Homo sapiens: one gene and its partners. The protein of the gene in region 2 purifies or fractionates together with the protein of the main gene of each other region. This does not show direct contact. Each region holds a gene or a part of one and is shown on either strand. Other genes may lie near its edges.

Region 1 (3,500 bases), on a different chromosome or scaffold from region 2:
AAATCCTTTCCATCAGGTTTTCCGTTTACTTTGCCCAGATGCATCAAAGGGATCACTGTCTATGCAGCTACAACCTTGTAAATGTATTTCTTAAATAATAAGACTTGAAAATTGAAATTACTACTTGATCCATGGGCTGTAGAATGGATGTGCTGTGGCAGGCATGAAGACAACATTAATCTCTTTGTACATCTCCATCAGAGCGCTTGGGTGACCAGGTGCTTTTTAATGAGCTGTAATATTTGTTTGTTTTTTGAGTTTGTTTTTAAACTTTTTTTAATTAAAAAAAATAGTTTTTGAGACAGGGTTGTGCTCTCTTGCCCAGACTAGAGTGCAGTGGTGTGATCACAGCTCACTGCAGCCTTCACCTCCTGGACTCAAGCCATCCTCCCACTTCAGCCTCCTGAGTAGCTAGGACTACAGGCATGCACCGCCATGCTCGGCTACTTTTAAAAAGAATTTTCTTTTCTAGAGGTGGGGTCTTGCTATGTTGCCCAAGCTAGTCTTGAACTCCTGGCCTCAAATGGTCCTCCTACCTTGGCCTCCCAAAGTGCTGGCATTGTAGGTATGAGCCACCATGCCCAGCTGCGTGGTAATGTTTTGAAAGGAATCTTTTTTTCTGAGCAATAGGTCTCAACAGTGGGCTTAAAATAGTCAGCAAACCACACTGTAAACAGATCTGCTGTCATCCAGGCTTTGTGTTCCATTTGTAGAGCACAGGCAGAGTAATTTAGCGTAGTTCTTAAGGGCCCTAGGATTTAAAAAATGGTAACCCAGCATTGGCTTCAGCTTCAAGTCATCAGCTCCATGAGGCACTCACAAGAGAGTCAGCCTGTCCTTTGAAGTTTTGAAGCCAGGCATTGACTTCTCCTCTATAGCTGTGAAAGTCCTAGATGGCATCTTCTTCCAATTTAAGACTGTTTCACCTACACTGAAAATTTGTTGTTTATGGTCGCCACCTTCATTAAGTATCTTAGCTAGATCTCCTGGATAACTTACTGCAGCTTCTACATCAGCACTTGCTGCCCCATCTTGCACTCCTGTGTTATGGAGATGGTTTCTTTCCTTGAACCTTACAAACCAACCTCTGCTAGCTTCACACTTTTTTTCTGCAGCTTCCTCACCTCTCTCAGCCTTCATTGAATTGAAGAGAGTTAGGACGTTGCTCTGGATTAGGCTTTGGCTTAAGGGAATGTTGTGGCTGGTTTGGTCTTCTATCTAGACCACTCAGATTTTCTCCATAGCAGCAATAAGACTGTTTTGCTTCCTTATTATTTGTGTGTTCACTGAAATAACACTTCTAATTTTCCTCAGGAACTTTTTTTTTTTTGCATTCTATAAATGTTCAGAGTTCTAAACCTTTAAAAGGTTTCAAATACATGTATAAACACATTCTAGAATGTCACTCTGACTGTTGCTTCCTTTAACTTCAGTCTCATCTGCTCCTGGGAGGGAGAGCTCCATCTCTGACGTAGCTGGCTCTGTTGGGCTTTAGCGCCAGCCTGCTCCACCGAGTGGCGTTTTCAGGACCACTGCCTCTGGGCAGCTCTTCCACTCTGGCTACGGAGCGTATGTTGTAGAAATTTTGATTTCTCTCCCTGCCAACCTGGGATAGAGTTTGTTCGAATTTCCCCATGTGAGGCCTTGGGGTAACCGTGCCCATTTTGAGGAGGTGGGGGCTGGAAGGGAAGAGGAAGTGGAGAGAGATTGGAAAGAAAGTATAAAGAGTCCCCTTTGCTCCAGTTCCCAGCAAGTTCCTCATCTCCATCTGAGACTACCTCAGCCTGGACCTTATTGTCTATATCACTATCAGGCTTTTGGTCAAAGCCATTCAACAAGTCTCTAGAAAGTTCCAAGCTTTCCCACATTTTCCTGTCTTCTTCTGAGGCCTCCAAACTGTGCCAGCCTCTGCCTGTTACCCAGTTCCAAAGTCACTTCCACATTTTGGGTAACTTTTCAGCAGCACCCCACTCTACTGGTACTTATTTACTGTATTAGTCTGTTTTCATGCTACCGATAAAGACATACCCGAGACTGGGCAAATAGAGGTTTATAATGGACTTACAGTTCCATGTGGCTGGGGAAGCCTCACAATCATGGCGGAAGGCGAAAGGCACATCTCACATGACGGTAGACAAAAGAAGAGAGCTTGGGCAGGGAAACTCCCCTCTTAATTTTATTTTCTATTTATTTATTTATTTATTTATTTATTTTTTGAGATGGATTCTCGCTCTGTCTCCCAGGCTGGAGTGCAATGGCGTGATCTTGGCTCACTGCAACCTCAGCTTCCCAGGTTCAAGCGATTCTCCCTCCCTCTGCCTCCCAAGTAGCTGGGATTACAGGCACATGCCACCGTGCCTGGCTAATTTTTGTATTTTTAGTAGAGACGGGGTTTCCTCATGTTGGCCAGGTTGGTTTCGAACTCCTGACCTCAGGCGATCTGCCCGCCTTGGCCTCCCAAAGTGCTGGGATTATAAGCATGAGCCACAGAATCTGGCCCAACTCCCCTCTTTGAAACCATCAGATCTCATGAGACTTATTCACTGTCACGAGAACAGCACAGGAAAGACCCACCCCTGTAATTCAGTCACCTCCCATGACATATGGGAATTGTGGGAGTTACAATTCAAGATGAGATTTGGGTGAGGACACAGCCAAACCATATCAGCATGATAAGTATGATAAACCCCAGTGTCACAGGAGAAGCAAATATTGATGAGTCCTTTGCCTGAATCTTTTATAATTTCTGTACTATGCTGAACAGTCTGTCTCAACAAGGTGTCTTGTTGACAGACTGTTTCCTAGGTGCAAGTCTTGTCTTCTGTATTAAAGGGTAAGGCCTGGGACTTGAGGGCTTTGGCCTTTTGTCCTTGTTTTTTGAGACAGAGTCTCACTCTGTCGCACAGGCTGAAGTGCAGTGCTGCGATCTCAGCTCACTGCAACCTCTGCCGCCGGGGTTCTAGCAGTTCTCCTGCCTCAGCCTCCCAAGTAGCTAGGATTACAGGCGCCTGCCGCCGCGCCTGGCTAATTTTTGTAGTTTTAGTAGAGACGGGGTTTCACCATCTTGGCTAGGCTGGTCTTGAACTCCTGACCTCGTGATCCACCTGCCTCAGCCTCCCAAAGTGCTGGGATTACAGGTGTGAGCCACTGTGCCTGGCTGGCCTTTTGTCCTTTTAAAGTCTCTTGGTGGCCTTTGCACTGAGCATGCCCTGGGCGTACTGACTGACCTGTAGCTTGATCACCTCATTCTTTTTTTTTCCTACAGCCTCGTGCAAGCCGAATACTGGCATGACCCCATAAAGGAGGATGTGTATCGCAACCACAGCATCTTCTTGGCAGATATAAATCAGGAGCGGGTAAGCACCCAAACCGGGCTCCCATAGATGTGCGTTCTTTTTCCTGTTTAGGTCTTCATAAACAAATCAGCAGTGACTGTTTACCCAAACTGTCCTGGGCAGACACTAGGAAAGAGAAGTTCTGTTTTTTTTGGGAGGCAGGGC
Region 2 (3,500 bases):
TTTAAATTATCTCTAGATTATTAATACCTAATACAGTGTAAACACTGGTGTCTCATATAAGTGGAATCATACAGTATTTGTCTTTTTGTATCTGTCTTATTTCACTTAGCATAATGTCCTGCAGGTTTATCCATGTTGTAGCATATATCAGATTTGATTCCTTTTAAAGGCTGAATAATGTTCCATTGTATGTGTATGTGTATGCCGCATTTTGTTTATCCATTCATCTGTTTCTGTTTCCTTTTAGACTGTGAGAACATTCTCTTTGAAGGGAATGACTACCAAGCTCTTTGGTCAAGAAACTCCAGAGCAGAGAGAAGCCAGAATAAAGGTGCTAGAAGAACAAATAAATGAAGGAGAACAACAGCTAAAGTCTAAAAATCTGGAAGGCAGGTAAAGATGCTGCGATGTTTAAGTAAGCTAGGCTTGTAGACTATATGGTAGATTATTTTATTTATTTATTTATTTATTTTGGTAACAATTCCCAGCTTCATTGGCATCCCTGAATACAGCCTATTCCTTTAAAATGCATTCCTAAGAAATTTGAGTTATCACGCTGGGTGTGGTGGCTCACGCCTGTAATCCTGACACTTTAGGAGGCTGAGGTGGGAGGATTGCTTGAGCCTGGGAGTTTGAGACCAGCCTGGGCAACGTAGGAAGACCCTGTCTCTACAGAAATAAATAAATAAATAAATAAATAAATAAAAATAAAAGAAAGTTGAATTATCAAAAATAATGTTATAGAAACAGTTGTTTCAATGTGGGGGAAAGAGAAATAAAAGTTTCAACTTCATAATATTATTTTCCTGCACTATTCCTGATTTCTACCCTTTGTACTTTCCCTCCACCATTTCTTCTCCCCTCCCCTCCTTCAGTACCCAGCTGAAGTGTTACTTCATTGTGAAGCCTTCTCAGGCTATCACGGCATTTAATTCATGCCAGTATGGTATGGCAGTTTTGTATTAGATGATTGATTGTTCTGTGTGACTATCCCTGGCTAAATTTAAGCCCTTCAAAGTCAGTGATTGTATCTTTTCCACATTCACATCCCAGTGCCTTACATAGGGCTTAGCATGTAATTGTTACATAAGTATTTCTAGAAATTCAGTTCTCAGAGACCCACTATCACTGTTTGACTCATTTTTCTTATTTTTGTTTTCATCTGACAGTCAGTGAATAGACCAAGGCAGACCAAGAGTGTATTTTGGGTTTTGAGGTGGTTTTGTTCATTTTTAGAACTACTAGCACCAAATATGGCAAAGTAATAGATAGAATTAAAAAAGACAGGCCGGGCGCGGTAGCTCATGCCTGTAATCCCAGCACTTTGGGAGGCTGAGGTGGGTGGATCATGAGGTCAGGAGTTTGAGACCATCCTGGCTAACATGCTGAAACCCTGTCTCTACTAAAAACCAAAAAAATTAGCCGAGCGCGGTGGCAGGCGCCTACAGTCCCAGCTACTCGGGAGGCTGAGGCAGGAGAATGGTGTGAACCTGGGAGGTGGAGCTTGCAGTGAGCGGAGATCACGCCACTGCACTCTAGCCTGGGCGACAGAGTGAAACTCTGTCTCCAAAAACAAATACCTCTCGGGATTTTAATTTTTATTATTATTTTTCATTTTTTTGAGACGGAGTCTCACCCTGCTGCCCAGGCCGGAGTGCAGTGGTGCCATTGTTGCTCGCTGCCACCTCAAAGTCCAGGGCTCAAGTGATCCTCCCATCTCAGCCTCCCGAATCACTGGGACTACCGGCTACCAAGCCTGGCTAAAAAAGTTTTTAAACTTTGGTTGTGATTTAAAACAAGTACATGCAGCTGGCCGTGGTGGCTCACACCTGTAATCCTAGCACTTTGGGAGGCCTAGGAGAGTGGATTGCCTGAGGTCGGAAGTTCAAGACCAGCCTGGCCAACATGGTGAAACCTTGTCTCTACTAAAAATACAAAAAATTAGCCGAGTGCAGTGGCGTGTGCCTGTAATCCCAGCTACTCTGGAGACTGAGGCAAGAACCCTGGATGTGGAGGTTGTGGTGAGCCAAGATCACGCCTCTGCACTCCAGCCTGGGCTACAGAGCGAGACTTGGTCTCAAAAAAAAAAAAATGCTAAACGTGATTCATAATCCATCTTGTCAAAAGAGTGTATATTTTCCAGTGACCCCTGGAAGGCACTTACTTCATTGTGACTGACACCTGTTAGGTTTGTGAGCTGGCTTAAGGAGTCATCTATGTGTATTTTATAGGAATAATTTAAAGGTAGAATCCTTGTGGCAAAAACTTAGATTATTAGGCCAGGTGCAGCGGCTCACGCTGTAATCCCAGCAGTTTGGGAGGCTGAGGTGGGCAGATCACCTGAGCTCAGGTGTTCAAGCCCAGCCTGGCCAACATGGTGAAACCCTGTCTCTACTAAAAATACAAAAATTAGTTGGGCGTAGTGGCGTGTGCCTGTAATCCCAGCTACTCAGGAGGCTAAGGCAGGAGAATTGCTCAAACCCGGAATGCAGAGGCTGCAGTGAGCCAAGATCACGCCACTACACTCCAGCCTGGGCAACAGAGTGAGACTCTGTCTCAAAAAAAAAAGAAAAAGTAGATTAAAAGGTACAAGAATATATGACTGTCTGTTTGCTTTTTCCCTAACTATAATTTTTAGGAAAATAAAAAAACTGTCTTATACAAGCAATAACTCTTCCTTCTACATAGGCAATTAAAAACCAACGCCAATGAGAACTGGTTAACTTTTTAGTACACAGTTTATTTAACTTAAATAATAATAATGGCTATACCTTTTATTTCAGAGAATTTGTGAAAAACGCATGGGCTGATATTGAACGCTTCAAAGAACAAAAGAACCGAGACTTAAAGGAGGCCCTCATAAGCTATGCAGTCATGCAGATCAGTATGTGCAAAAAGGTAGGGTTTTTCCTGTTTCAGTGAAGATATATGTATATTCAGAAGTGCTTATACATGTATTTAAATTACCTGACCAAAAAATTTTTCATTTTTATTCTTCTCTTGTAGAATGTTTACCAATTTCTCTATTTTAATTTTGTAGGATTTCTGTTTTATTTTGTTTTGGTTTTTTTATTTTAAAATTTTAAATATTTAAAAAATAGATATGGGGGGGTCTCGCTATGTTGCCCAGGCTGGTCTCGAACTCCTGGCCTCATATAGTCCTCCTGCCTCGGCCTCCCAAAGTGCTGCAATTACAGGTGCGAGCCACCATGTCCAGCCTCTACTGGTGTTACAACCAGTATGCCCATTACTGAGTCTCCACTCATCTAAAGTCCAAATTTGTATCTCCATTTATAACTTGTATTTGAGAATATATACCAAGATTATTTAGATCATATGGTACTCTTGGACCAGACAGTAAAATACCATTCCAGGTATATGCTTTGATTGGAAAATAGCTTGAACATTATTTCGTGAAGACCTGGTTATGATATGCTTCCTCATAAAGTAAATCATTTGTGTTGCTGATATCCATAGTGAAAGATACAAACATTGAAGCT
Region 3 (2,834 bases), on a different chromosome or scaffold from region 2:
CAAAATGCTGGAATTACAGGAATCCAACATTTTTAATACAGTAAACCAAACAATTTCTAAGTTTACAATTTATCACAATGCTTAATGATTAAAAGTTGAATAAACTTTTCTAATGCAGTACACCTGGTTTCACAGAAAACAAAGCAACTCTTAAACACCAGCTGGCAAAATGATAGGGCTTTTCCTTTGAATTAGTCACCACAGGTGTGAAAGACAGAATGACTAATCCATCTGATTAAACATAGACCTTTTAGAAATCAATAACCTTATTTACACAGATGACAATTGCTACTGTTCCAAGGCTCCTAATCATGGTTCAGTTCTCAGGGCCTCAAGTCTTTTTCCATTCCATCGCAGAGTAGTACCAACATTTATACACCAGAAACCTGGGGATTATCCTGGCTTGTTTTTCTTCCTCTCCCAGATATGCTCACAACAGAGAAGCCAATCAATAAATATTGTTGAACTAAATGGTTAACAAATTCAAGCCCCTGAATCTCCATTATTCCATCTCCTCCACTACTGCCACTACCCTACTGTAAGCTATTCTATCATTCTTGCTAGGAGAGTTAGCTTCCCAACATCTTCTCTTCCCCATTCCAAACTATTATCCACATTGCAGCCAGACTGAAATTTTTATAACACAAATCAGATCAAGGCACTGCCTTGTTTATAAACCATTCGAAGGCTTTCCATTTTTAGGACTTTTTTTTTTTTTTTTTTTTTTGAGACAGGAGTCTCGCTCTGTCACCCAGGCTGGAGTGCAATGGCACGATCTCAGCTCACTGCAACCTCCACCTCCCGGGCTCAAGCAATTCTCCTGCCTCAGCCTCCCGAGTAGCTGGGATTAGAGGCGTGCACCACCATGTCCAGCTAATTTGGGGTTTCACCATGTTGCCCGGGCTGGTCTTGAAGTCCTGACCTCAGGTGATCCACCCACCTCGGCCTCCCAAAGTGCTGAGATTACAGATGTGAGCTACCATGCCTGGCCATTTTTAGGAAATTCTTAATATGGCCTATACAGCCCTGCATGATGTCTTTCTCTAAACAAAAACACAGAGATGCTACAGTACATTATCCCAACACTATAATTACAACCAGGTTATTGTTTTTACTTACTAGACTGAAAAGTGAAGAGTAAACAGTATTTTCCTTACCTTAACCTCTCCAGCCATTTTATCAACTGCAAATCCCTCAACTGATAGCTGCAAAACAATGGTTTTAAACAGTAAGTGAAACCAAGAGGCTGAGAACAAACTTCCATTTACCCTAAAAATAAATCATTCTGTTCTCTGCCAACTTCAGTCTGTTATAAAGGATGTGTGATGGGAGATGGAGAAGTCCTTAAATAAAGCCAGTAACTATTTAAGGAAACTTTTTTTTTTTTGAGACGGAGTTTCACACTTGTTGCCCAGGCTGGAGTGCAATGACCTCATCTCGGCTCACCACAACCTCTGCCTCCCAGGTTCAAGCGATTCTCCTGCCTCAGCCTCCCAAGTAGCTGGGATTACAGGCACACACCACCACGCTCAGCTAATTTTTGTATTTTTAGTAGGGACAGGATTTCACCATGTTGGCCAGGATAGTCTCGAACTCCCGACCTCAGGTGATCTGCCCACCTCGGCGTCCCAAAGTGCTGGTATTACAGGCGTGAGCCACTGCACCTGGCCACAGGAAACATTTAAAGAGCAAAGACCACAATGTATGGGTGTAGTGAATCATGGATGTCACTAAATAATATCCATGATTAGCAAGCTACTCAAAGTTTTTCACATACCTTTATTAGTCTGGATATTAAGAATCCTCCCTGGTATCGGTTATAAAGTTCTTCCCAGTTGTCCTTTATGAATTTCCAAGCAGCTTTCCTACCATGCTTGCTGCCTCCAGCTACTCCACCAATTACCGATACAGTGTCCTGTGGACGTACCTCTTCCTAAAAAAAGAAAGAGAGCTAAAAGTCTAGTGTATCAAAAACATATTCTGGTACCAGAAAGTGCACCATACTGTGACACTGAAGTAATCACACTGAAGACACTTATTCCTTGTTTTAGGAATAACTGGAACCAGAAGTTCTCAGCAAAGAAGATAATGTTTAAGCTAAAGATAACCAAAATGAGAATGAGGTACTGAGACAGGTTCAGACAGACAGACTGCTCAACAGATACTTGCTTAGGAGCCTATAGGTTTAAGAAAGGAAGAGACACAAAGTAAGCAAAGGCATAAGCCAGTTTCCCAGTTTTCAAGAGTCCCTGTCCTCATAGTTTCCATTCTGGAGAGACAATTTGTTTACTCTCCCAACTATTCTGATTCTCGCCACTAGTGGGAGAAAAACAGAAGTCAGTAACAAAAACTCAAGCCAGTTACTCTGGAAAAGGAAGCTTTAGTTAGGGTTAAGGCAGCTCAAGAGGATCAGAGCTGAATCAGAGACACTTCTCAGAGATGGGTAACGATTCACTTCTAAATGCAGTTTTCACCGTAACTTACTGAAAGTGCAAACGTGAGGACTTTTTGAATCAGGTCAGGCAAAAGAGTAGCGCCAAGGACTCTTTCGATTCGGTTTTTCTCTTCTTGCATATCTGCTTGTTTATGAAGCTACAGGAAAAAAGATAAAGATAGGAATAGTTAACTCTCCCTTGGATGTTCTGCATATGATTATATGAGCTTCTTCCCCAGTAAGGTAAAACTTAGGTTCTATATTCTCACTAGGTAAGAATGGCAGGGCATTATATTAAAGAAAGAGAATACTTTTCAAGATGCTTTGGGCCAGGTGCGGTGGTTCACACCTGTAATCCCAGCACTTTGGGAGGCCGAGGCGGGTGGATCACCTGAGGTCA
Region 4 (3,500 bases), on a different chromosome or scaffold from region 2:
ATTGCTTGAACCCGGGAAGTAGAGGTTGCAATGAGCTGAGATTGCACCACCGCACTCCAACCTGGGTGACTGAGCAAGACTCAGTCTCAAAATAAAATAAAATAAAATAAAACAAAGCTTGTTGGAATATGACATTAGACTGACAATAACTCTAAATCCATTTTAATTGATTATAAAAATAGGAATTCACTTGCAATCACTGGAAATGTAATCATTTGACATACAGCAAATTCCTATGACACAACTCACAAATGATTGTGACGCACGATGAATGCAACTTCCTGGTCTATACAATCAAAAACGATTATGGAGAATAATGCAGCCATGCACATAAAATATGTGTGAATTATTATCATTGATGAGAAGGACATAGATCTGACTTTTAGTAAAAAATTTATATAAGAGAAAGAGAAAAAAGAAACTTTTACTAGACTCGAGGTTGGCATTTATTTTCTGTGTGACCTTGGGCAAGTCACTTGTCTCTGGTTCTCAATTTCTTTTTTTTTTTTTTTTTTTTTGAGATGGAGTTTCGCTCTTGTTGCCCAGGATGGAGTGCAATGGCGCGATCTTGGCTCACCACAACCTCCACCTCCCGGATTCAAGCGATTCTCCTGCCTCAGCCTCCCGAGTAGCCGGGATTACAGGCATGCACCGCCATGCCTGGCTAATTTTGTACTTTTAGTAGAGATGGGGTTTCTCCATATTGGTCAGGCTGGTCTCGAACTCCTGACCTCAGGTGATCTGCCCGCCTCAGCCTCCCAAAGTGCTGGGATTATAGGCATGAGCCACCGCACCAGGCTGGTTCTCAATTTCATCAGTGAAATGAGAGGCCTGGATTTCACGAACAGAAAGGTCCACTCCAGCTGCAAAATTGGGTAGATATGCAGCATCCATTTGATGCTGCTGTTTCACAGGTACGTTCTAGGAAAAGTTAAAGGAACTGGCATTCCTCAGTGTCCCCTGCATGTCAGACTTCAGGCTTGCTGCCCTACCTACCTTCACTTACTTATCACCCATAACTACCCTTGATGGTTGATGGACATCTTTCCATTCATTAGAAGGCAAACGCAAGGTTCAGGGACAATATGTCAATTACCAAGGTAACTCAGGTAGCAAGTGGCAGATCCAAGATTCCAGGAGCCAAAGACTCACTTATCTACATTTGCCCTCTAGGTGCCCATGACCTGACCACACCAGAATGGTCACAGGTAAGTGAAATCATGCCTGTTTTGGCTCCATTTCCCAAGGCCAAATTCCTTAGGCACTGGAGCAGTGGTCTTGATTCTGCAGCTAACTCAGCAGGAAGTAAAATGAGGCAGTGGTTAGAAATGTGTGTTCTGGTGTGAGCCCGCCTAGTATTCACATCACAGCTCCACAAAGGTTGAGGGGCTTTACCAAGCCTCCCTGAGCATTGGGTAGTTCAGGTGGGTAATAATTGTACCTAGTCCCAGGGTTGTTAGGAGGATTTAAAGAGATAACCTATGTAAAGCTCTCAGCAGACTGCCTGAATATAGTAAATACCCAATCATTATTTGCTACCTAGCTAAACAGGAGGCCTTTCCATGGTGACAAGCAATTTCCAAGCTTATCTATGGCAGGGGTTATGAACCTGGGGTCCAGGAGGTCCCTGAAATTATGTGCAAAAACCTTTTCTCTAGGAAGAGTTCTGAACCTTTATCAGTCTCATAAGGGTCTGTGACCTGACAGAGGTTTAGACTTTTTGACTGCTGTAGACCTGACTTCCTACCATATCAATTATTTCTGAAATAACAGGGTTAGCAAAAGATCCTCAAGTCATGGGAGAAGTTGCTGGATCCTCTCAGCATGGCCTCTCCAGCCATGTGTGCCTCCGGTACTTACCATACAGACCCAGAAACTGCCCAGAATTCCCAGGTGGTTCCTATGAGAAGGTCTGAATACAAATCGCACAACAAGAAGGAATCAGGCTGCAGGAACCTTCTCTGGGAGGGCCAGCCCCAAAGATCTATTCTTCCTCCGAGAACAATCGGTGCATTTGTTTTGCATACCACGAAGTGAAATACACAGGACGCTGGCCCCTTCGCTAGAGCTCACAAAAGCACCCAGAGTTACTCCGCAAAAGGAGCACGGCTCCAAGGTGCTGTTCAGACCTGATCCACAGCACCTGATTCCCGAAGGGCCTGTCACCTTCCCAGGCTGGCCTTGACTCAGGAAAAGCCTGTGGTGCTGCTGGAGCCTTTGGCCCAGTGGGCAGGACCCAAGCTGCCCACTGGACCCTCTCCGGTTGTTGGGACAACCATCCTCAGGAATTTCGGCCTCCCAGTCTTCCCCTGGGTGAGAAGGGGAGAGAGTTGGCAAGGCTGGCTGCTTGGCTGCTCTTCCAACCCCCTGGTGAAAGGGGAAGCTGAAAACTGGATTCCCTACCCCCAGCAGCTCCTGGCCGGCCAGCACACAAAACAGCTCAGCCCCAGAGGGAGGAATGTGCCAAGACATTCTTTAGGGTTGGTAACCAGAGACGCTATTTTGTCCTTGGTGGCTAAGAAATCACTTTTCTGACTGAAGGACCATTTGACTTACTTCTTTTAAATTCAGGGGAATGGGTGGGCATCTCCATGATTCAGGTAAGGAAAAATCCAAGGCAAATAAACACACACACACACACACACACACACACACACACACGGAGTAGAAATTTTTAGTGCAATTTTTTGTCTCACAGCATTAATTAATTGCAGGGATATAACTACCTTGGCAGAATTTTTTCTCCCCAACCCACCACCCCCCGGAATAAGTTTGGCTCTTTTCAGCTTTGTTAAATTTCTTCTTCCTTTTTCTCATAGCCCATCCCTGTTCCCCCTTCTCCTCTCATGGAGTCTGGAGAGGTAAGAGCGGCAGAAGGGTTTGAAATAATATTTAAGAGCTGGCAGGCCCTTGAAGACCATCTAACCAACCCACTTCTCAAGCACTCAAACCTCAGAGAGGTCAAGTGATTTGCCCAAGGCCACACAGACAGAACTAAAAGGCAAAAATGGGGTATGCCGGAGGGAAATTCCAGAAAACCACAAGTGGCTATCCTCCAATTAGCACTTTTCCAAAACATACAAAGCTGGACCACAATAGTGACCCCCAGAGTTGACATGAGACCCCCTCAGGACCCCAAGTTCAGGGGCCCAATACCACCCCAGTCCAGGTGGGATGACAAGGAGGTACAGAGATGAAGTTTATAAACCAGTGACCCAAGGCCAAGCGTGGTGGCTCACGCCTGTAATCCTAGCACTTTGGGAGGCTGAGGTGGGCGGATTGCCTGAGCTCAGGAGTTCAAGACTAGCCTGGGCAACACAGTGAAACCCCATCTCTACTAAAATACAAAAAATTGGCTGGATGTGGTGGCGTGCACCTGTAGTCCCAGCTACTCGGGAGGTTGAGGCAGGAGAATCGCTTGAACCCAGGAGGCAGACTTGCAGTGAGCCAAGATCGCACCACTGGACTCCAGCCTGGGCGACAGAGCGAGACTCTGTCTC

Evidence for each region. Proteins that work in one complex are often made in the same cells at the same time.
Region 1: the proteins of SNX4 (region 2) and PPT1 purify together in Homo sapiens (co-immunoprecipitation; one large-scale study listed by IntAct). This does not show direct contact.
Region 3: the proteins of SNX4 (region 2) and NPEPPS purify together in Homo sapiens (affinity purification with mass spectrometry; one large-scale study listed by BioGRID and IntAct). This does not show direct contact.
Region 4: the proteins of SNX4 (region 2) and WWC1 purify together in Homo sapiens (co-immunoprecipitation; one study listed by IntAct). This does not show direct contact.

The regions. Positions count from the first base shown.
Region 1 is NC_000001.11:40,080,253-40,083,752, reverse strand, and holds part of PPT1 (palmitoyl-protein thioesterase 1 isoform 1 precursor), read left to right. Parts: intron 1-3,265; coding exon 3,266-3,356; intron 3,357-3,500. UniProt on the Homo sapiens protein: Has thioesterase activity against fatty acid thioesters with 14 -18 carbons, including palmitoyl-CoA, S-palmitoyl-N-acetylcysteamine, and palmitoylated proteins. In contrast to PPT2, PPT1 can hydrolyze palmitoylated proteins and palmitoylcysteine.
Region 2 is NC_000003.12:125,450,703-125,454,202, reverse strand, and holds part of SNX4 (sorting nexin-4), read left to right. Parts: intron 1-247; coding exon 248-393; intron 394-2,783; coding exon 2,784-2,898; intron 2,899-3,500. UniProt on the Homo sapiens protein: Involved in the regulation of endocytosis and in several stages of intracellular trafficking. Plays a role in recycling endocytosed transferrin receptor and prevent its degradation.
Region 3 is NC_000017.11:47,618,108-47,620,941, reverse strand, and holds part of NPEPPS (puromycin-sensitive aminopeptidase), read right to left. Parts: intron 2,593-2,834; coding exon 2,485-2,592; intron 1,934-2,484; coding exon 1,778-1,933; intron 1,665-1,777; coding exon of another isoform or gene 1,570-1,664; intron 1,206-1,569; coding exon 1,158-1,205; intron 1-1,157. UniProt on the Homo sapiens protein: Aminopeptidase with broad substrate specificity for several peptides. Involved in proteolytic events essential for cell growth and viability. May act as regulator of neuropeptide activity.
Region 4 is NC_000005.10:168,294,645-168,298,144, reverse strand, and holds part of WWC1 (protein KIBRA), read right to left. Parts: exon of another isoform or gene 1,861-3,500; intron 1-1,860. UniProt on the Homo sapiens protein: Regulator of the Hippo signaling pathway, also known as the Salvador-Warts-Hippo (SWH) pathway.